3 separate regions of the Homo sapiens genome follow, and regions 2 and 3 are each reported to be linked to region 1. The links are microRNA targets in miRTarBase. Many come from high-throughput screens and were not tested one by one. Region 1 holds a microRNA gene; each other region holds the end of a gene's coding sequence.

Region 1 (6,088 bases):
GAGCTTATCTGCAAGATGGCTGCCTGCCCAGAGAAGCTAGACCTGAACCTGGCGGCAGCTGTGCATAAGGAGATGTTCATCATGGTGCAAGAAGAGCGGCGTCTACGAAAGGCCCTGCTGGAGAAGGTGGGGAGAGTACCCCAGATCAAGCACCCTATTCTGGTGGAAGTTCGGGGAGGCAGAGGCAGCACCAAGAAGATGTAGCCTCTACTCTTGGCGTATAGTGAAAAGAACTAGATGCATCTCGATTGAAAACCACATACCATTCTCTGCTATACCCTTTACCAGCAACCTTAAGTCGATTTACTTCATTGTCAGTTTTCCCCTCTGAAAAATGGGATTATGATAATGCTTATCTTTTTGGATAGTTGATTGTATTAAAGATAATGTTTGCTTAGTGACTGACCCATGGCAGGTACTGGTATAGCAGCTATTTATCATTATTTACATGACCTAGCAAAATAGACTGGCATATGAAACCTCACTGCTGATTATCTAGGTGACTGTATCAAGTTACTTGATCTTTCATATCTCACTTTCCTACTCTAAAGTGGGAATAAATACCTAACTTGCAAGATGTAAGGTTAGAGTAAGGTGATTTATATGAAAGCCATCTCTCTAACATTGCCTTTGCAATGTTGCAGCTGCTATTATTGGTAATGTTAATACATGAAGAAACTGATTGAAATTTGGAATGTTTCTCAGGAATTGCCATTTTATTACATGCAGATGGTTTATTAACTCCAGCTAGGGCAATAATATTACCAAGCTGAAGGTGGTCCTGCTTTAATTGATTTCTTGTAAGCTTGTGTCAGTTGTGTGTGTAGCTGAGTGGAAGCTGCTACAGAGCTCTAAAGTCCACTCGTGTAGTTTCAGCCATCATCTTCAAATTTCACACTTGCCCAGTTAGGGAATTGACTTTGTGAGAGTCTTTCATAAGATTACAAAGGAGTGCTGGTTCTGTGGGATCCCTTGCTGCCTATCTAGGGTAATACTTTCTTATTTTAAAGCTCATTTATAGCTTTCCTGTGAGTGTGGGCTATAGGGAGAACTATAGCTACAGTAGTGTTGGAAGTCTGGGGCCTCTCAGTCGTGGTGTAAGTTGTTGAGTCCCTGGGCTTTTCCAGGCATCATTTTCTCACTCTGTTCAGTACTGTTATTAAATGATGGCCGTGTGGCTGTGCCAAGCTGTGGGAAGGAGCCAAAGCAAGGTGGGGAGAATAGACCTTCTCATCTTGACATTCAGAATTCTTCACACTTGGCCCTTACCTCAGAGAAGCATTCTGGACACCATAGTCTTGGAATCCTGTAAGAGATTGTATGTGTATTTAAGTATGTTTCTGGGAAGAGGACTTATAGTTTACATCCAATTCTCAGGAGTCTGTAGTCCAAAAAAACCCTAGAGACTTCATCCTTAGAATATTCTCTGGCTTTAGAGTCAAAATTAACTCAGTTTGGCAAGTTACTGACCCTGAGACTTAGTTTCTGCCTTAGTAAAATGAGATAGGCCTGTGGAATATATATTCTTATCTGAAAATTAGAGCTAATAACAGTAAATATTTGATGAACACTGAATCTAAGTGCTGAGATACTTGTCTGATTCCATAGCTGCTTTATTTTTGTTAATCCTCATAACAACCCAACAAGGATGATACTGTTTATCTCCATCTTACTAGATAATGAAACAGACCCAGAGACGTTAAATGATTTACTCATGATCACACAGCATATAAGTGGCAGAGTGGGATTTGGGCTCATAACTTATGCAGAGATTAGGTGTTAAAGTTGGTATGTAAGACAAAAACTGTTAAGAGTTGACATTTCCCATTAAAATCCCTAAAATTGCCCATTAGATATACACACTGGGTTGTCTCTCGATTACTCCAATATAGCCAGCTTTTCCTTCATTTTTGAAATGGATTGCTTTTTCTTTATCTGAGCAACAGATGAAGTCATTGGATTAGGTTTGGAAACCATATTGTTGGGAGAAAATTATTATATCTCTTTAAACCCTGAACACAAGCACATACGGTTGAATTTCTCTAAGTTATATATGTGCACAAGTATCTCCTGCCTACTAAGTGGCCAGCGTGGTGCCTGGAACACAGTGGGCTCTGAGTAACTGGAAGCCGATATTGTTCCCCAGTACACATAACTAGCCAGGCCTGTCCCTTGGCCACTTGCACTCATTGCCACCTCTCTGGTATCTTGGTCCACCACTTTCCTCACTTCTCACCCACAAGACCCTTTCTGCTGATCTGGATCTTACCTGATTTTTCTTCCTCTATAAAATTATCTGACTCAGCGCACACTGATCTTGCCCTGGTTTATCTGATTCCCCAAGCTTTGAGAGTCTAGACTTTACAAAGGGCAGGTATGCTCCCTGGGGTTTGGCCTCTTAAACCCCATGACCCTCAGCATAGATTTGAATCTAAAGTAGGGGTCGGTGGTGGCTGAGATGGAGGATTTTGCTACCTGGTTCTGGTTATATATAACGCATAGGTTAAATGCCCTTAGGGTATCACAGAGGCTGAGCGAGAGGCTTTCGAGCTGCTCCCAGATGATGAGCGCCAGTGTATCAAGTGCAAGACTACGTGTTTCCTGTCAGCCCTGGCCTGCTACGACTGCCCAGACGGCCTTGTCTGCCTTTCCCACATCAATGATCTCTGCAAGTGCTCCAGTAGCCGGCAGTACCTGCGGTGAGCATGGGCCTTTCTGGAGGAAGTGGGGCAAGAAGGAGGATGGAGAGCTGGGCCAGACATGCTCTTGCCTGCCCTCTTCCTCCAGGTATCGGTATACCTTGGATGAGCTTCCTGCCATGCTGCATAAGCTGAAGGTTCGGGCTGAGTCCTTTGACACCTGGGCCAACAAAGTGCGAGTGGCCCTGGAGGTGGAGGATGGGCGGAAGCGCAGTGAGTGATGGGGGGGATGGAGGGACTCCACAGGCAAGTTCTATTCCCTTTCTTCTGTACTCTGACCCCCTTCCTCTGCCTCTATTCAATACTGCCTACTCTTTGCTGCCCTCATTTTTCTTCCAGGCCTTGAAGAACTGAGGGCACTAGAGTCTGAAGCCCGTGAGCGGAGGTTTCCTAATAGTGAGCTGCTGCAGCAACTAAAGAACTGCCTGAGTGAGGCAGAGGCTTGCGTGTCCCGAGCTCTGGGACTGGTCAGCGGCCAGGAAGCTGGGTATGACAGCGTGAGGAGTTAGGGCACACATAAGGTGCTGAGGATCCAGCACCGAGGAAAAGTGCTGCAAGGGGTAGACTGTGAATACCATTTGGCAGAATGGACATCAGCAGGAAGCTGCCAGGCACAAGAGTGTGAGATGGCCTGGAAGGTGTTGGGGGGGACAAGGAGACCAGGCCACCTAAAAAGGAGAGGAGAGCCTCTGTGATAAGAAAGCTAGAAGTGTTTATTTTTTATCAGTACCTGGAAGTGGCCTGAGAGAGAGGCTGAGGGGTTTTGTGGGCAGGGAAGAGTTGTGGGAGGCTTACGGGTAAGAACAGGACAAAGATGTATAGACCTGATCCCTGCTAACACAGCTTTAGAGTTCACAGTAGAGGATGGATTGCAAAGTGTAGCTCTTATTACAACCCATTAGTTTCTAATTCTTTCCCCTCATAATATGAACATGCTCTATAATTTAAAACCTTCCCTCTAACCTGGGCAATTGGGGCAAATTTGAAATATGCGAGATCAAGGTGGACAGGTGTAGTGAGGAAAGGTGTTCAGTCTTAGCATAGACATGGAGGGAAGGCACTGAGTTTGGACCTGAAACCTCACATGTGATACTTCATAGCCCCCACAGGGTGGCTGGTCTACAGATGACCCTGACTGAGCTCCGGGCCTTTCTGGACCAGATGAACAACCTGCCTTGCGCCATGCACCAGATTGGGGATGTCAAGGTGAGGACGCTTGGAGTGCTGATGAGGGATCAAGGGGACCAGGGGACCTGAGCAGCAGGCCATGCTTGGCTCCTTTCAAAAGCTTAAAGTGTTCAGGCAAGACAGGACACACGTGTGAGAAAAGAACAGGTGGGAGGGGTGAGGCAAGGGTCTAGTGACTTGTCTGTTAGAAATGGGCCTTGAGGGTCAGGTGGCAAGGGTATGGGTATAGGATACAGAGTCCAGGTAAGGTTTCCTGGAGGAGGGGTAGAGGAGAAGGAGGTAACAGGGGTGCTTGTTGGGCTTGGAAAGTGGAGGGAAATTCATGAAGGTGGAGGAGGAGTGAGATGGAGAGGGCAACAGACCCCAGGGTGGTGAGCACAAGGGTTTATGTGAGGACTAATCATAGCAATTTTTAGGGCAGGGAGGTCTCTTGGTGCCCTGAGAACAGAGCCCTCTGAAAAGTTAAATAAAGCATAGATTAATAATTATTAGTTAATTAAGAATCTCTCAGGGTGGGGCCCAGGAATCTGCATTCTTAAATTCCCCAGGGCATTCTAATGAGCAGTCAGTGTTAGGAACCCCAACTGTCTTAGGGCTTGGAGAAGGAGAGCTCAGCCCATGTTAGGCTCCTTTGCCCCAAAAGCTTGGAGGGTAAGAAGATAGGTGGGACAAGGTTCCATCTGGTGGTGGAACCCCTCAGTGGGCCCAGCTGAGGAGTTTGTTCTTCATCCTGTGTCCTGGTAGGGTGTTCTGGAACAGGTGGAGGCCTACCAGGCTGAGGCTCGTGAGGCCCTGGCCTCACTGCCCTCCAGTCCAGGGCTACTGCAGTCCCTGTTGGAGAGGGGGCGGCAGCTGGGGGTGGAGGTGCCTGAGGCCCAGCAGCTCCAGCGGCAGGTGGAACAGGCGCGATGGCTGGATGAGGTGAAACGCACACTGGCCCCCTCAGCCCGAAGGGGCACCTTGGCTGTCATGCGAGGACTGTTGGTCGCGGGTGCCAGTGTAGCCCCTAGCCCTGCTGTGGATAAAGCCCAGGCCGAGCTGCAGGAACTGCTGACCATTGCTGAACGCTGGGAGGAGAAAGCCCACCTCTGCCTGGAGGCCAGGTAGGTCCAGCTGCTGCTTCCCTTCCCTGCCCTATTCCAAACATCAAAGTTGAGTGGAGACCCAGAAGAGGATGCCCATGGGTGGCCTTAGGTATCACGCTCCTGTGTTACTGTATTGACTCTCCCCTCTTTTGTTGTCTATCTTGTCGTTTTTTTAAAAAACAACTCTGTATACTTAAAGGCAAAGAGAGGCTGATGGAGAAGCAGAAATGGACAGATAGAGATTATCTAGAAGACTAGCCCTACAGGCTAATGTGCGCATACCCAGAAGCACAAGTGACAGGCAGATGGGCAGATGTTGGTAGAAAGACCCCACACAGGGCAGTTGACAAACTGCAGCAACAGATTACACAATACAGGTTGTATATGTAGGCATTGCTAGCAGGCCAGCAGACTGGCAGACAAACAGAGGTGCAAGAGCTGTGGCAGAAGGGATGAAGTTGGGTGCATGCAGTCTTGGGGAAGCAGGGACTGGCAGCTACCCTTAGGTGGAATACAAGCAAGTAGGCCCAAGTGACAGCAGGAATAACAGACACCCAAGGGGCCCATGCAGATATATCTGGTGGTCAGGCTGGGCTTCTGGTCAGGCAGACCACATCAGACTGAGCGTTCTTTTTTTCCTTACCTTTAGGCAGAAGCATCCACCAGCCACACTTGAGGCCATAATCCGTGAAGCGGAAAACATCCCTGTTCACCTGCCCAACATCCAGGCTCTCAAGGAGGCTCTTGCTAAGGCCCGGGCCTGGATTGCTGATGTTGATGAGATCCAAGTGAGGACCCTGCCACTCCCACCCCAGGCCTTCAGTCCAGCTGGGAAGAGATGGCATATACACTGGGATGTGCTGGGTTGCTGGGATGGGTTGGGTTGGCTGGAGAGAGGAAGGGGGCATGGCATGTAGTCAGGAGGCAAGATGTGCCTGATGAGCAGGGTGAGAGGAAGAGTGTGAGGCTGGCCTGAAGGAAGAGAGGGCACTGGTTAGGATGAGATTGGTGGGCCAGGGAAGCAGGTGGTATGGGACTGAGCAGGGCAGGGGCATGGAGGAGAGGAGAAGAGGCAAACCACAACAGAAGGCTGACTAGATATTTGGGGCTGAGCCA
Region 2 (7,071 bases), not on the chromosome of region 1:
CCCCTCCCTTCCAGATTAACCAAAACCTGCTAATTGTGGAAGCCCTCGGCATGCTCCCCTCCCCCACAGCCTCTTCCTCCCTTCCCTCCCCTCCCCCTTCCATCCGAATGATAAAGGCCCCAGCCCGCCTGCCCCAGCCCGGCCTCAGGTCCCGGCCCTGCCTTCTACACTGCCCCACCGCCCTGCACCCTCCACCCGGCCAGGCCCCTGCCCACGCTGTCTACCGTCCCGCATGGGGCCCTGCAGCGGCTCCCGCCTGGGGCCCCCAGAGGCAGAGTCGCCCTCCCAGCCCCCTAAGAGGAGGAAGAAGAGGTACCTGCGACATGACAAGCCCCCCTACACCTACTTGGCCATGATCGCCTTGGTGATTCAGGCCGCTCCCTCCCGCAGACTGAAGCTGGCCCAGGTGAGCGGGCCCCGGCCCCCACTCTCTCTTTCCCCAGACTCGTTCCCCACCCACTTCCAGGTTCAAGCCCTGACCCCCACCCCTTCCTAGCCCACCCAGGTATGCCAGTGGGACCAGTCCTGAGAGCTGAGGGCCTCAAGGCACGACCCTTCTCCGGGAGCCCCTTGCCCTCTCTGCCGCGCTTCCGCGCAGAAATGTCCTTCTTCGGGGACAGCAGGGGCCGGCACCGCGCGCCCCTGAGCCCGGTAGTGGGGGAGGGGTAGGGCGCTACCCCCTCCCCGTCTGGGCTCACGGCGCCGGCCGGCCGCCTGGCGGTTTCAGATCATCCGTCAGGTCCAGGCCGTGTTCCCCTTCTTCAGGGAAGACTACGAGGGCTGGAAAGACTCCATTCGCCACAACCTTTCCTCCAACCGATGCTTCCGCAAGGTGGGGCAGGCCAGGGTCGGAGCCCGGGGGCGGAGCGCGCGCGGAAGTCCTGAGCATCCAAGGTTGGGCAGCCCCACCCATGTCTGACCCCCACACCCAGGTGCCCAAGGACCCTGCAAAGCCCCAGGCCAAGGGCAACTTCTGGGCGGTCGACGTGAGCCTGATCCCAGCTGAGGCGCTCCGGCTGCAGAACACCGCCCTGTGCCGGCGCTGGCAGAACGGAGGTGCGCGTGGAGCCTTCGCCAAGGACCTGGGCCCCTACGTGCTGCACGGCCGGCCATACCGGCCGCCCAGTCCCCCGCCACCACCCAGTGAGGGCTTCAGCATCAAGTCCCTGCTAGGAGGGTCCGGGGAGGGGGCACCCTGGCCGGGGCTAGCTCCACAGAGCAGCCCAGTTCCTGCAGGCACAGGGAACAGTGGGGAGGAGGCGGTGCCCACCCCACCCCTTCCCTCTTCTGAGAGGCCTCTGTGGCCCCTCTGCCCCCTTCCTGGCCCCACGAGAGTGGAGGGGGAGACTGTGCAGGGGGGAGCCATCGGGCCCTCAACCCTCTCCCCAGAGCCTAGGGCCTGGCCTCTCCACTTACTGCAGGGCACCGCAGTTCCTGGGGGACGGTCCAGCGGGGGACACAGGGCCTCCCTCTGGGGGCAGCTGCCCACCTCCTACTTGCCTATCTACACTCCCAATGTGGTAATGCCCTTGGCACCACCACCCACCTCCTGTCCCCAGTGTCCGTCAACCAGCCCTGCCTACTGGGGGGTGGCCCCTGAAACCCGAGGGCCCCCAGGGCTGCTCTGCGATCTAGACGCCCTCTTCCAAGGGGTGCCACCCAACAAAAGCATCTACGACGTTTGGGTCAGCCACCCTCGGGACCTGGCGGCCCCTGGCCCAGGCTGGCTGCTCTCCTGGTGCAGCCTGTGAGGCTCTTAAGACAGGGGCCACTCCTCCCTCCCGCTCCCACCCCCACCTTGTTGACAGGGAGCCAAGGCGAGGCGGCTGTCTGCGACCACAGCAGCCTCGAAACACCAGGCAGCAGCCTTGCTGGGAGTCCACGGTGTTTATTGGGCCACCCCACGCATGGCCGTGGCCCAGCTGGGCACAACCCTCACCCTGGTCTGTCATGCCTGTTTTTCCTACACTCAGCGGCAAAGCTGCAGGAGCAGGGCTGAGCCTGGAATAGCCCTTCCTAGTCCCCTCTTCTCAGCCCACTACCCATCCATCAGTCACCAGCCGTCACCTCCCCTCCCGTGCTCCAGGCTGGGGGAGGGAGAGCCCAGTGGTGGATCCAGCCTGAAGTCCTGCCCTCTCTCATCTGTCTGGAAAGGAGGTAGCACCTTTTTCGGGAAACGGGTTAGGGAGTAAAGACTGCACCCTACATGGTCCTGGTGGTGGGGGGGATAACAGTAAAGGAATTTGCAACGTTTTAATGCCATGCCTGATTTTTGGGTCAGGAGTGGTGACTTGGGTAACCACTTGGCGGGGGGGCCTGGGATTCCCTGCTGTGTGCCGTGATAACAGCAAATGGTGATAAGGAGAAAGCCAAGACCTGTGGCCTGATGCAGGGCTGGGGGCGGGGGGTGATCACTTCAGCAGGCACAACACACTTCACTGGCTGCGGAGGTGGAGGGGTGACTCTGGGAGCTCAGGGGCAATGGATCCAAAGAGGCTAGGGAGCTTGTGCCCTGGGAGACGGGGTACAGGGACTTTACTACCGCCTCTGCCAGCAGAGACCTGGCCTGAGACCCCATGGGCAGGGCCGCGACCCAGGACTAGAGGGGCAGGCCCTCTGCGGGCGCGAGAGCCGAGCCCGAGCCGTTGTCGGGACTGGGGCATGGAGGACTGCCAGGGGACGGCGTAGGGGTGCAGGGGGTCCCGGTGAGCGGAGTGTCGGTGCTGAGGGAAGAAGGCGTCCCGGAGGAGCGCGGGACCCTGCGGCGCCGGGCTGGCCCCAGCTCCACTTGACCCACTCGGTCGGCGAACTTGAGGGAGCAGACTGTCTCCCCGAGATCCTCCGGCCGCGTGGAGATCTGCGGGCAAGAGGCGCGGGTGGGCGGGCCCGGGTGGGCGGCGACCGGCACGCACACACCTGCCCCGCCCCGGCGCCCACCTGCAGCAGCAGCACCGCGGTGGTGCCTGGGCCCAGCGCCGGCTGCAGCAGTCGCGTGAGCTGCGAGTCGCGGAAGGGCACGTGCGGCCGGTGGGCCCGCAGTGCGGCCATCACGCCTCCTAGCGCCAGCAGCGAGCGGTTTATGGTCTGGGCCTCCCGCAGGCGCCGGGCGCCGTCTGGGTCTCCCCGCGGCGGGCCGGCCGCCCCTGCCTTCCGTGCGCGTTCGGATCCCGCCAGGTCCACCAGGTGCAGCGTGCCTAGAGGGGCGAGCGAGCCCGACATGGGGGAAGGCCGGGCCTCGGGTGCTCTGGAGACTCCGCAGGGCTCAGGCACCGGCCGTGGTACCTGCGGTGCCTGGAGCGCGCGGTGGAGACGCCGCGCGCAGCGTCAGCGTGACCAGGGCATGCGAGCGGGAGCTGCGCTGGTTCATGGCGGTGGCGGCGGTGGCCCGGTTGCTCCTCCCCAGTTTCAGCATCTGGAAGGCGGGGCGAAGGGCTGGTCAGGTGCAGGGTCCCCGCCCCCAAGTGGAAGCACGGGGCGGGGTCTCGGAGAGCGGTGCAGCCCTACCTGGTGCAATGTCTCCAGGTTGGGCACGTCCCAGTGGGTGAGGCCAGCCACCTGGATCCCGCCCTGGCCTTCTGGGCCCTGCCTCACGGCCAGGCGCTCGGGAGGCCCTGGAGCAAGGAGGTCCCTGGTGAGAAAGGGGAAGGTCTTGGTTCCAGAATTCTCTGGAAATCCGGAAGGGCCCTGGGCCAGGGGTGGGGAGAAGGCCTCCCTGGTGGAGTAGCCCACCTGACAGCCTCATTGTAGATCTCCACCATGCTGAGTGTCACCCGGTGCTGCCGGCCGGCCCCCATCTCCCGGAACAGCGACTGCAGCGCCCTAGGAACTATGCCGGGGTCCTCAGGAGGGCCCTGAGGATGGGGTGGGGTGCACACCGGGCTCACATCCAAGTCATGCAGGGCCCCTGGGGCCTCTCCCACTGGGGCGTGAGCTCTGTCCCACCTCCATGCTGTAGGTCTTCCCGGTGCCTGTCTGGCCATAGGTGAAGATGCAGACGCTGTAGCCTCGGAGGCAGGACAGCACCGCAGGTTCCAGCTCTCTGAAGACCTGCGGGAGGCGGGAGAATGTGTTTTGAGTCCTCCCCACGTTGCCTGTTTATGCCCTATTTGGTGGGGTGGGGAGTGCCACGAAGGCAGGTGTGAGCAGAGCCTAGTCTCCTGGGAGGATGGCTCTAAGGGACCATGGGGGAGGGTGTGTCCTACAGAGACCCTCTGTCTCCCTAGAGAAGGTGGTGCTTGCAAGAATTTGCCAGGCAAAGAAGGGAAAAGACACAATGAGAAGAGGAACAGCCTATGCAGAGGCTCTGGAGTCCTGAAGACCACGTAGGAGACCTGGGGACAGCAGTTAAGAGCGCAGGTGTGGTGTCCTTAATGTGGAAGCCAACGTGAAAAAAAGAAAAATAAATCCCAGCATTTTGAGAGGCCAAGGAGGGTGGATTGGTTGAGCTCCGGAGTTTGAGACCAGCCTAGGCAATACGGTGAAATCCCGTCTGTACAAAAACTACAAAAAAATTAGCCAGGCATGGTGTTGCACATCTGTGGTCCCAGCTACTCGGGAGGCTGAGGTGGAAGGATCTCTTGAGCCCAGGAAGCAGAGGTTGTAGTGACCTGAGATTGCACCACTGCACTCCAGCCTGATGACAAAGTGTGACTGTCCAAAAAAAAAAAAATACATATACATATATATGTAGTAAAAAATTTTAAAAATGTTTAAAAGAGCCCAGATGGGCTGGGCGAGGTGGCTCACGCCTGTAAACCCAGCACTTTGGGAGGCCAAGGCAGGCAGATCACAAGGTCAGGAGTTCAAGACCAGCCTGGCAAACGCGGTGAAACCCCTGTCTCTACTAAAAATACAAAAATTAGCCGAGCATGGTGGCACGCACCTGTAATCCCAGCTACTTCGGAGGCTGAAGCAGGAGAATTGCTTGAACCCAGGAGGCGGAGGTTGCAGTGAGCCGAGATCACACCACTGCACTACAGCCTGGGCAACAGAGTGGGATTCCATCTCAAAAATAAAGAAAAAAAAAAGAGCCCAGATGTTGGGGCGTGACTGCACGGTTCAAACCTGGGTATGATTGGAGCTTACTCATTGGCCTTCCTGTGCCTCACTTTCCCCTGAGAGATAAGGGCTGCAGTGGCACCTGCTGTGAACACTTGTGGCAGTGCACCTAGAGGGCCGGCCACACCAGTACCTGGCTCACAAGGCGTGACCCCAGGAAGGGCCTGCAGGTACGGGGGATGGTGGCCAGCCAGGCCTGCTGGAGCCCAGGCACAGACAGGTGCTGAGAGAGACACAAGGTTAGGACATTCACCCCATTGGCACTGGACACCAACAGTCTTTTGAGCAACAACATGGCTGGCTTTTATGCCCAGAAGGTCGCTGCTAACAGGGTGGGCTGTCAGCTCTGTTTGAAGACAGCCACAAGGCTAGAATCTAGAATTCTGTGTTCTGTGTGGTCACTGAGGTTCCATGATTGGATGGAGGTGGCACTGAGGATGACATTCAGGAGCACATCATGGCACCACTGCAGAAACAGGAACACAGATGAGGGGCTTGTCCACAGATGCCTTTGGTTCAGACACATTGACTGAGAGGACCCTGTCCAGGACGGCTGTCCAGAGGACGGTGCACAAGGCATGCCCTGCGCAGTGCTGCAGTGTGGGGTGGGGCTAAGGCCAGAGGGATGTGTGGGATGAAGGAAGAAGTGGTTGGAAAAGAGGCAATCAGGGTGACCCTGGCCACCTGCTGGGCAGTCGTCCCCCTGTCCCTGTGAGGCTGGCAGGCAGCCTGGTTGGGAGTCGCTGCCATTCTGCCCCTTACCTAGTCTCCCCTGGCTCTGAGCTGCCATCTCCTTAGCTATGGGAGCTGTAGCAGCAAAGGGCATGTGCAGATGAAAACGTGTGTGAAAGTGGGGTGGGCTGGGGCTGAAGCCCCTGCTTTTCCACAGGTGTCTGGCAGGAAAAGGGTGGGGAAGGAGAGTGGGATCCAGGCAAGGCAGAGAGAGCACACTAAGACTAGAAGGTTGCCTCCTCACCCACGGCCCCCACCACCCACCGCCTGCCTTGGGGCCATAAAGCAATGAGGGGCCCTCATAGCTGGGCAAACCCTGGACCCCAGCAAAGGGGAGTGGGCAGGCAGTGAAGCCTGGGAGGAGGAGGCACCAAGCTGGGCTGCCTGCCCTGCTTCCCAGCCCCCTCGGTTCCCTTTCCTTCCTGGCTAGAGCCCAGCCACCCTCTCTCCTCCAGGTGGACACCCAGACTGGGAAGGGGAAACTGGAGCCTCTCCTGCTCTTCAGGGAACTCTGAAAAAGGGTCAGGATGGCTGCAAAGGCAGGCTGTCACCTCCTCCTGGCTGGCGTCTGGAGGGAAGACCCAGTCTAGGCGGAATCGACGATGGCGCCCCCGGTAGCAGGTGGTGACGGTGCCCCCTGGGCCAGGCTCCACACTCACAAGGCTAGAAGATGTCCCTGGCCTCAGCCGACACAGCACACGGATATTTCCTGCAGTGGGGATCAGGTCAGCATAATGCCTCGCAGACCCTAAAGCACAGAGAAGCTGCACTTCTTCCAGCCGCCCTCCCTGCCCCGCTAGGCTCCCAAGCCTGTCATACCCTTGAGTTCTGGCAGCCGCCCTGGGCATCCGGCTGGGGGCCCTTGCTGCCCCTCAGGGAGCTGAGTGCCAGGCCCTCCAGATGACAGTGCCCCCAAGGCCCAGGACACCTGAGGGAACAGGGATGTACAGAAGGCAAGGGGTCAGCCAAGGAGCTGCGGAGGTGGGGGGTGGGAGGGTCCTGAGAGCAGCAGGGAGCCCCCACAGGCCCGCTCAGCTGTGCTAAGCCACAACTTTCAGTGGCTCTGGGCCCCTGGGGACATCATTGAGTAACCCCAGGATAAAGCCCAGGAATGACAGGCAGGAACACCACATCATCTGTCTCCTCCGTGCTTCTGGGCAATGCTTTAAGAGTTTACTGTCAACCAAGTATGCATAGAATTAAAATAAGGCCCAGAAGTGGAATCCCACCCTGGGTCACACAGAAGCTGTTTGGGTTCCAGAGCCCCACTTATTAGTACAG
Region 3 (7,071 bases), not on the chromosome of region 1:
AAAAGCTGAGCTGTTTTCCGTGTTCCCAGAAGACAAAACACTAGAGAATGTGTTTGCTTGCTTTTGTTTGGTTTTGCTTTCTGTCTTCCTCACCCTGGATCCCAAGACTCATTCCTCTGATCTCCTCTCCTAGTTTTGCAAAAAGGTAAACTGAGGCACAGAACAAATTGGCTGGACATACCTGTGTCTAGGAGGGAAGAGTGACAGGAAGGCATACGGAATTTGAGTCAAAAAACCTCAGTGCTCCATGGGTGACCTTGGGCCAAAATGCTTTCCCTTGTTGGGCCTCAGCTTTCTCATCTATAAAATGGGAGACGGCCCACCTGTCTTGTAGGTTTGCCAAGACCATGTGTCTAAAAGAACTTTGTAAAAGGGAATGCACTGGACACTTGTGAGGTGCCATCTTCACCACTGTGGATGGCCCCTTCCCTCCTCCCTGTCCTAACCAAGGGACACCTAACTAATCCATAGGACACCTTTGTGAGAATTACAAAAAGCACCTCCTCTGGAAGGAGACAGCATTCAGTTGGCTAGCAACTTGGGGTCTTTAGTATGAGAATGAGAAGGTGGCATACTTTACGCCAGGTGCTGCTCTAACATGTGGAGTGTGAGCTAGATTCTAGCTGGGACGTTCTGCACATCTACACCTGACAACCCTTCTCAGCAGGTCCCTGCTGTCTCTAAGAGACACAGAGCTACACATACAGGGCATTTTCTAAAGCAGCCCACATCCCAGGCTGTCTCCAGCTCATTTCTTTCCTGTTTTGTTTCCACATCAGGGCTTTTGGGTATTCAAGCCCCAAAGCACGTGCCCTACTAGGAAGCAGGATGGAATCCCTACATCAGAGAGTGACTCCTTTGAGTTAAGCAGTGCCTTCACCAAGCTCTCAGGGGTAGGAGTGACTGAGTCCCTAAACCCTTACGTCAAGAACTGGACCAGATCACTTTTGTCAGGGCAACCGACAGAAGCATCTGCACACCTCAGCACTGCCGTTGACAAACCATGTTCACACCTATCTCAGCACACCCCCACAGCAAGCCTGTGTGTGAGGTCTCTTCCCCATTTACATGGAGGAAGCCATGCCCAGAGAAGTTAGGGAACCTGCCCAAGGTTTCACAGTGTGAGTGGTAGAGCCAGGACCTGAACCCAGATCTGGCTATCTGTCCTCTCCAATCCATCACTCCCAAGGAACAAAGCTGCTGACTTCACAGCCTTGCCAAAGCCCTGCTGGAATTGTTGCTGTCCCTGTCCATCCCCAGTAGCCCCTGGCTCGCCACTCCTTCTTCTGAGTAACCAGCCTCCAAGCAAAGAGAAAGGAGTCACCTTCTCTTTTACTCTGATTTCAAGGGGGAGGAAGCTACCTCAAAGCCCAACTGTTCTCGCCTCCTCTGTGCAGGAAGGGCCCCTGGTGAGGCCAGGAAAGGGGTCAGGGAGCAGCGATTTCCTTTCCTGCTCAGATGGGGCTTAAACAGTAACGGTCATGCAGAGCGTTGACACAGAGAGCCAGTGCCTGCGTGAGTGGCAGACCAAGGACCATAAAATAACCACAGGAAAATGCAGCCAACTGGAGCTGAGGGGAACTCAGAGACTCCCCTGAATCCCCCGGGTTACCAGGGCCCCTGAGTGTCAAATGGGAGGTGTAGGGGCAAGCCCAGCAGACAGGGCTGTAGGCCTCTTTAACCAGAGTGTTTCTGCTAGTCTGTGTTCAAGCTTTCACTTAAGAAAGGGGTTTCGGCCGGGCGCGGTGGCTCACGCCTGTAATCCCAGCACTTTGGGAGGCCGAGGCAGGCGGATCACAAGGTCAAGAGATCAAGACCATCCTGGCCAACATGGTGAAACCCTGTCTCTACTAAAAATACAAAAATTAGCTGGGTGTGCTGGGTGCAAGCCTGTAGTCCCAGCTACTTGGGAGGCTGAGGCGGGAGAATCGCTTGAACCTGGGAGGTGGAGGCTGCAGTGAGCCGAGATCAAGCCACTGCACTCCAGCCTGGCGACACAGCCAGACTCCGTCTCAAAAAAAAAAGGGGGGGGGGCGGGGTTTCAAGGCCAGGCGCGATGGCTCACGCCTGTAATCCCAGCACTTTGGGAGGCTGAGGCAGGTGGATCACTTGAGGTCAGTTCAAGACCAGCCTGGCCAACATGGTGAAACCCCGTCTCTACTAAAGATACAAAAAATTAGCTGGGCGTGATGGTGCGCACCTGTAATGTCAGCTACTCAGGAGGCTAAGGCAGGAGAACTGCTTGAACCCGGGAGGTGGAGGTTGCAGTGAAACGAGATCGTGCCACTACACTCCAGCCTGGTTCACAGAGCGAGACTCCATCTCAAAACAAACAAACAAAACAAAGAAATGCAAATTATCAGGCCCATCACAGACCTACTGAATGAACTCTGGTGATGGGGCCCAACTATGTATGTTTGAACACGCCCTCCAAGTGACAGTGAGGCTCGCTAGAGTTTGAGAATCCAAGGATGTAGGAAAATTGAAACCTACTTGTGGGTCAAGGGCAGGGCTGGGAAGAGAACCCTTGTCTCCCGGTGGAGAGCCGGGCGTTTGGAAGCCGCCCCTGCCAACACTCCACTCTCGCCCCTCCGTCTCCCTCCCAGGCGCCATGCTGCCGCTTCTGCTGGGCCTGCTGGGCCCAGCGGCCTGCTGGGCCCTGGGCCCGACCCCCGGCCCGGGATCCTCTGAGCTGCGCTCGGCCTTCTCGGCGGCACGCACCACCCCCCTGGAGGGCACGTCGGAGATGGCGGTGACCTTCGACAAGGTGTACGTGAACATCGGGGGCGACTTCGATGTGGCCACCGGCCAGTTTCGCTGCCGCGTGCCCGGCGCCTACTTCTTCTCCTTCACGGCTGGCAAGGCCCCGCACAAGAGCCTGTCGGTGATGCTGGTGCGAAACCGCGACGAGGTGCAGGCGCTGGCCTTCGACGAGCAGCGGCGGCCAGGCGCGCGGCGCGCAGCCAGCCAGAGCGCCATGCTGCAGCTCGACTACGGCGACACAGTGTGGCTGCGGCTGCATGGCGCCCCGCAGTACGCGCTAGGCGCGCCCGGCGCCACCTTCAGCGGCTACCTAGTCTACGCCGACGCCGACGCTGACGCGCCTGCGCGCGGGCCGCCCGCGCCCCCCGAGCCGCGCTCGGCCTTCTCGGCGGCGCGCACGCGCAGCTTGGTGGGCTCGGACGCTGGCCCCGGGCCGCGGCACCAACCACTCGCCTTCGACACCGAGTTCGTCAACATTGGCGGCGACTTCGACGCGGCGGCCGGCGTGTTCCGCTGCCGTCTGCCCGGCGCCTACTTCTTCTCCTTCACGCTGGGCAAGCTGCCGCGTAAGACGCTGTCGGTTAAGCTGATGAAGAACCGCGACGAGGTGCAGGCCATGATTTACGACGACGGCGCGTCGCGGCGCCGCGAGATGCAGAGCCAGAGCGTGATGCTGGCCCTGCGGCGCGGCGACGCCGTCTGGCTGCTCAGCCACGACCACGACGGCTACGGCGCCTACAGCAACCACGGCAAGTACATCACCTTCTCCGGCTTCCTGGTGTACCCCGACCTCGCCCCCGCCGCCCCGCCGGGCCTCGGGGCCTCGGAGCTACTGTGAGCCCCGGGCCAGAGAAGAGCCCGGGAGGGCCAGGGGCGTGCATGCCAGGCCGGGCCGGAGGCTCGAAAGTCCCGCGCGAGCGCCACGGCCTCCGGGCGCGCCTGGACTCTGCCAATAAAGCGGAAAGCGGGCACGCGCAGCGCCCGGCAGCCCAGGCCCCTGCGCTGTCTTGACTGCGACGCATTCGCCGGCGGCAGGCGGGAAGGTGCTGACTACTGCGGGCCCGCAGGCCCGGGGAAGGGGTTGGAGGTTGGAAAGCAAGGTCCCCTTGGACCCTGGGAGGGTGAGGAGGTGGGAATTTGATGGAACCACATTCGCCTAGTCCGTTGGGGGCCTCCCTTTTATATCCCTACCTCGTCTAGCCCTCTGACTCATCATTGACCTACGACCTCAGCCTTAGCCCCCGGCTGATGCCTTTCTGTGACAAGGAACAGCACCCCATTACCCCACAGGGTGCATGGGATTCAAGGAAACAGTGCATTCCTTCTTCCAGCAGGGCGTGGGAATGAGATGAGGAGTTGATACCTGGTTGCCCTGACTCTTGCCTTCCCGGGATGGGGAGAGTGATTTGCCCAGAGCAGGGGTTAGACGCTTATTCCGACATAGAATGACACAGGCTCCAGGAGGCCGAAACAGAACATTTTATGAGAAGAGCAACACAGAATCAGGGCCACACCTGCTCCAGCCCACCTCCGCTTGTCTCTCCTTGGTCTCCCAGCCTTACTCCCCCCTCTGAGGTATTCACCCGACGCTTGTTGAGATATTGCCTCCCTACCCCAAAAGAGATAATGTTCCTCCCTCCCCCTGCTTCCCTCCACTCTTCCAACTGACAGAACTCAAAAAGTCGATTCTCCCAACCCAGATGGGAACTTGGAGGCTCAGAGACCCCAAATCCTTGGTTGTGCCTAAAAGGGGATGCTCAGCACCTAGAGGATTCCTGTGAATTCCACAGGACCTGTCACAGACTGCCAGGGTAGGAGTTGGAAGGTCTGACCAGGCCTTACTTGGGGCAGCTTCCCTTCAGCATCTCTTGAACACACTTCTCAACCCTGACCCCTGATCTCCACACACACACACACACACACACACACACACACACACTCACACACACACTGCCTGCAAGTCGTGCCCTTAGCTCTGTGCCCACTCCTTGCGCACTCCTTGCGACCCAGAGCCTGGGTTCTTAGCCTCTCAAGATCTAGGAAACAAGATCTGGTCGGGGTAAGCAGAGAGGGGGTGTCCAGGGTGCAAGCCAAGCCCAGAGATCTGAACACGGTGAAAAGAATCAGATGCCAGACAGAAGCCCCTGCGCAAGATGGGTCTGCCTGGGGGGTTGAGGAGGAGATGGGAGGGGGTAATGGCAGGTGAAAGAACAAAAGAGGAGGGTCAGGGGAAGGGGTCAAGGATGGAGGCCCAGGACCCCAGGGAAGGGGGCCGGTCCTGGGGGCAGAAACCTTTGCACAGGTCCCAGAGTGTTTCCTGTGCCAGGAGAGCGAAGACCTGGGCCCAGCGGCCCCGTTCCTCAGCCTCACTAGCTGCGTGGAGCCGGTAGACGCAGGACAGGCCTGTGAGGAGCAGATGTTCAAAGTCCCAAGTGCTAAGAGGAGGCCCCTTCCGCAGGTCCTGGAGCTGCTGCAGCCACTGCTCAGTGCCCTCCAAGTCACTGGGCACGTGGTGCTGCAGGAGGAGTCTGAGTCGGCGGCCTGGGTGTGTGGACGCTAGTTCCTCATCCTGGATGTGCAGCTGCCCCATGACATCCAGCTCCAGCCCAGCCCAGAGCAGCTGCAAGGGGAGCCATGTAAGGGGTGGGCTGTGGCCTGGGGAGCAGGGCAGGGAGCAAGAGTGGGCTGGGGGAAGGGGCAGAAGCAGGCAGCAGGACGCATGCTGGCTTGCCCCACCCAACCCTAGCAGGTCCACCCTGAGACATCCCCCTTCCCAACCCTGAGCTTAGGGACCTCTGGACGTGCCCACCCCCATGTCCCAGGCTGGGAGGAAAGACCTCAAACATCACTTCCGGGGCCTCTGGCTCCTGCAGGCCACCTCCCACGCTGGTGCTGTCCATGGGCTGCCCTGGGGCAGCAGAGAGGAGTCAGGCCCCTGCCATGCTACACCATGAACACCCCAGCCTCCCAGAAGTGCCCCTCTGCTGCCTGGTAGAGGTCCCGAGTGCTTCATCATTCTACAAAAGGGCAGGAATGCCATCCCATGCCCTCCTTTCCCCTCCCTCTCACGCACACACATGCACATTGACATTCACCCTCCCAGGCATAGGTCCTCTGATCTCAAAAGCATCATTCCAAGCCCAGTTACCATGTTGGCAAATGCCCAGGACACCTCCTTTAAATTGCACAATGCCCTTGTTAAAGAGCTCCAGGCCAACGGGTCACAAGACCCTTCCCCACCCTCCTCCCCTCCCTATAGTCATCTGAGGATAAAGTCACCTAAAACAGTGCCAGTGACTCTCCCAAGGACAAAGACCTCTTTGGAAAGAGCCTACTCTCCCTGCTCCTCCTCAGCAGTAAGGGAGGGAGGAGGAAGACAGGGCAGGGAGGACAGAGCAGGGGAGGATGTGAGGCAGGGAGGACGGGGCAGGGGAGGATGTGAGGCAGGGAGGACAGAGCAGGGGAGGATGTCTGTGGCAGCTCCGTCCGGCCCACACCTTGGGGTGTTGCCTCACCCTTGCAATGTTTGTTCCAAGCCCAGGCAGGTCAAGAGACCCTGCTTTGGGCATCAGTGGGAATGAGCCCAGGGCCAGCATTAAGAGCACCTAGGGCTATCTCCCTAGGTGTCACCTGTACCTTTCCAGTTCTGGGGGTGGGGCCCACACTGTCACCCACCACAGCACACATCAGCCTGGTACCCACCATGCCCACGCTTCTATGCCCGACTAGCCTCAAATAGAGCCAACTGTTAACTGCTGTCAGCCAGCAGCCTTGGCTCCTCTCCACCCACCCTGAAGCCTGGTACCTGCATGGGGCTGGGTTGTAGTCACACCAGAGAGGAGACAAATGGCTACCACCAGGCAAACCAGGAACTGCAGGGTCGCAGCCATGCTCAACCACGTCCTCTGAGTCTCACTCTGTTCAGCAGTTCTCTGCTCCCTCATCTGCCTGCCACACACCTCAGCTCCAACTTTCCACTGCGGGCTGCTCCAGAGCTCTGTAATGCGTGTCATTCTTCAGTGCTGAACAGGGAGGGGCTGGCTGTGGCCTCGGTCACCTCCCAGGGGCTCTTTCCATCCTTTAGAAATGGGGAATCTTTGGTTGTTGGCAGGAGCCTGGCTCCCTGCTTGTCAGGCCCTCAGCCTGTTCCTGCCCAGCTGGGCGGTATGCTTAGTTAATAGGAAAAAGGTGTTTGGTAGCAAATAGCTGTAGCTTGGCCCTCCCAAAGGGTAGGAAAGAGCTCAGGCAGTAAGACCATCTTACTGTCTGCGCCCTCAAAATATCCTGCGACTGAGGCCAGCCCCGACA

What was found. The annotated mature microRNA hsa-miR-6894-3p reads UUGCCUGCCCUCUUCCUCCAG and lies in region 1 at 2,767-2,787, shown strand. An mRNA with a match to its seed (bases 2 to 7 or 8) in the 3' UTR can be bound and repressed. Matches are read on the target gene's strand: a 7mer-m8 pairs with bases 2 to 8, a 7mer-A1 pairs with bases 2 to 7 and ends in A, and an 8mer does both.
Region 2: miRTarBase lists FOXH1 as a target of hsa-miR-6894-3p. Seed matches in the 3' UTR shown: 7mer-m8 at 2,420-2,426.
Region 3: the mRNA of FAM180B is a reported target of hsa-miR-6894-3p. Seed matches in the 3' UTR shown: 7mer-m8 at 4,715-4,721.

The regions. Positions count from the first base shown.
Region 1 is chrX:53,195,588-53,201,675 of GRCh38, reverse strand. MIR6894 (microRNA 6894) reads left to right here and starts at 2,731; the gene lies at 2,731-2,787. KDM5C (lysine demethylase 5C) reads left to right here. Exons shown (of 26, transcript NM_004187.5): 14 at 1-126; 15 at 2,518-2,699; 16 at 2,788-2,912; 17 at 3,039-3,186; 18 at 3,800-3,905; 19 at 4,632-4,990; 20 at 5,622-5,760.
Region 2 is chr8:144,468,918-144,475,988 of GRCh38, reverse strand. It overlaps FOXH1 (forkhead box H1), which reads left to right and starts at 140. Exons shown (of 3, transcript NM_003923.3): 1 at 140-406; 2 at 728-832; 3 at 933-2,577. The coding sequence starts at 233. The coding sequence ends at 1,751. KIFC2 (kinesin family member C2) reads right to left here. Exons shown (of 18, transcript NM_001369769.2): 11 at 6,610-6,718; 12 at 6,342-6,499; 13 at 3,943-4,047; 14 at 3,730-3,851; 15 at 3,505-3,628; 16 at 3,283-3,412; 17 at 2,938-3,194; 18 at 1,787-2,857. The coding sequence ends at 2,600. RefSeq lists enhancers at 796-1,689, 1,690-2,585 and a silencer at 3,488-3,547.
Region 3 is chr11:47,586,351-47,593,421 of GRCh38, reverse strand. It overlaps FAM180B (family with sequence similarity 180 member B), which reads right to left and starts at 6,744. Exons shown (of 3, transcript NM_001164379.3): 1 at 6,569-6,744; 2 at 5,601-5,671; 3 at 4,228-5,383. The coding sequence starts at 6,653. The coding sequence ends at 4,988. It overlaps C1QTNF4 (C1q and TNF related 4), which reads left to right. Exons shown (of 2, transcript NM_031909.3): 2 at 2,607-3,755. The coding sequence starts at 2,612. The coding sequence ends at 3,601. RefSeq lists silencers at 4,014-4,214, 5,839-6,039.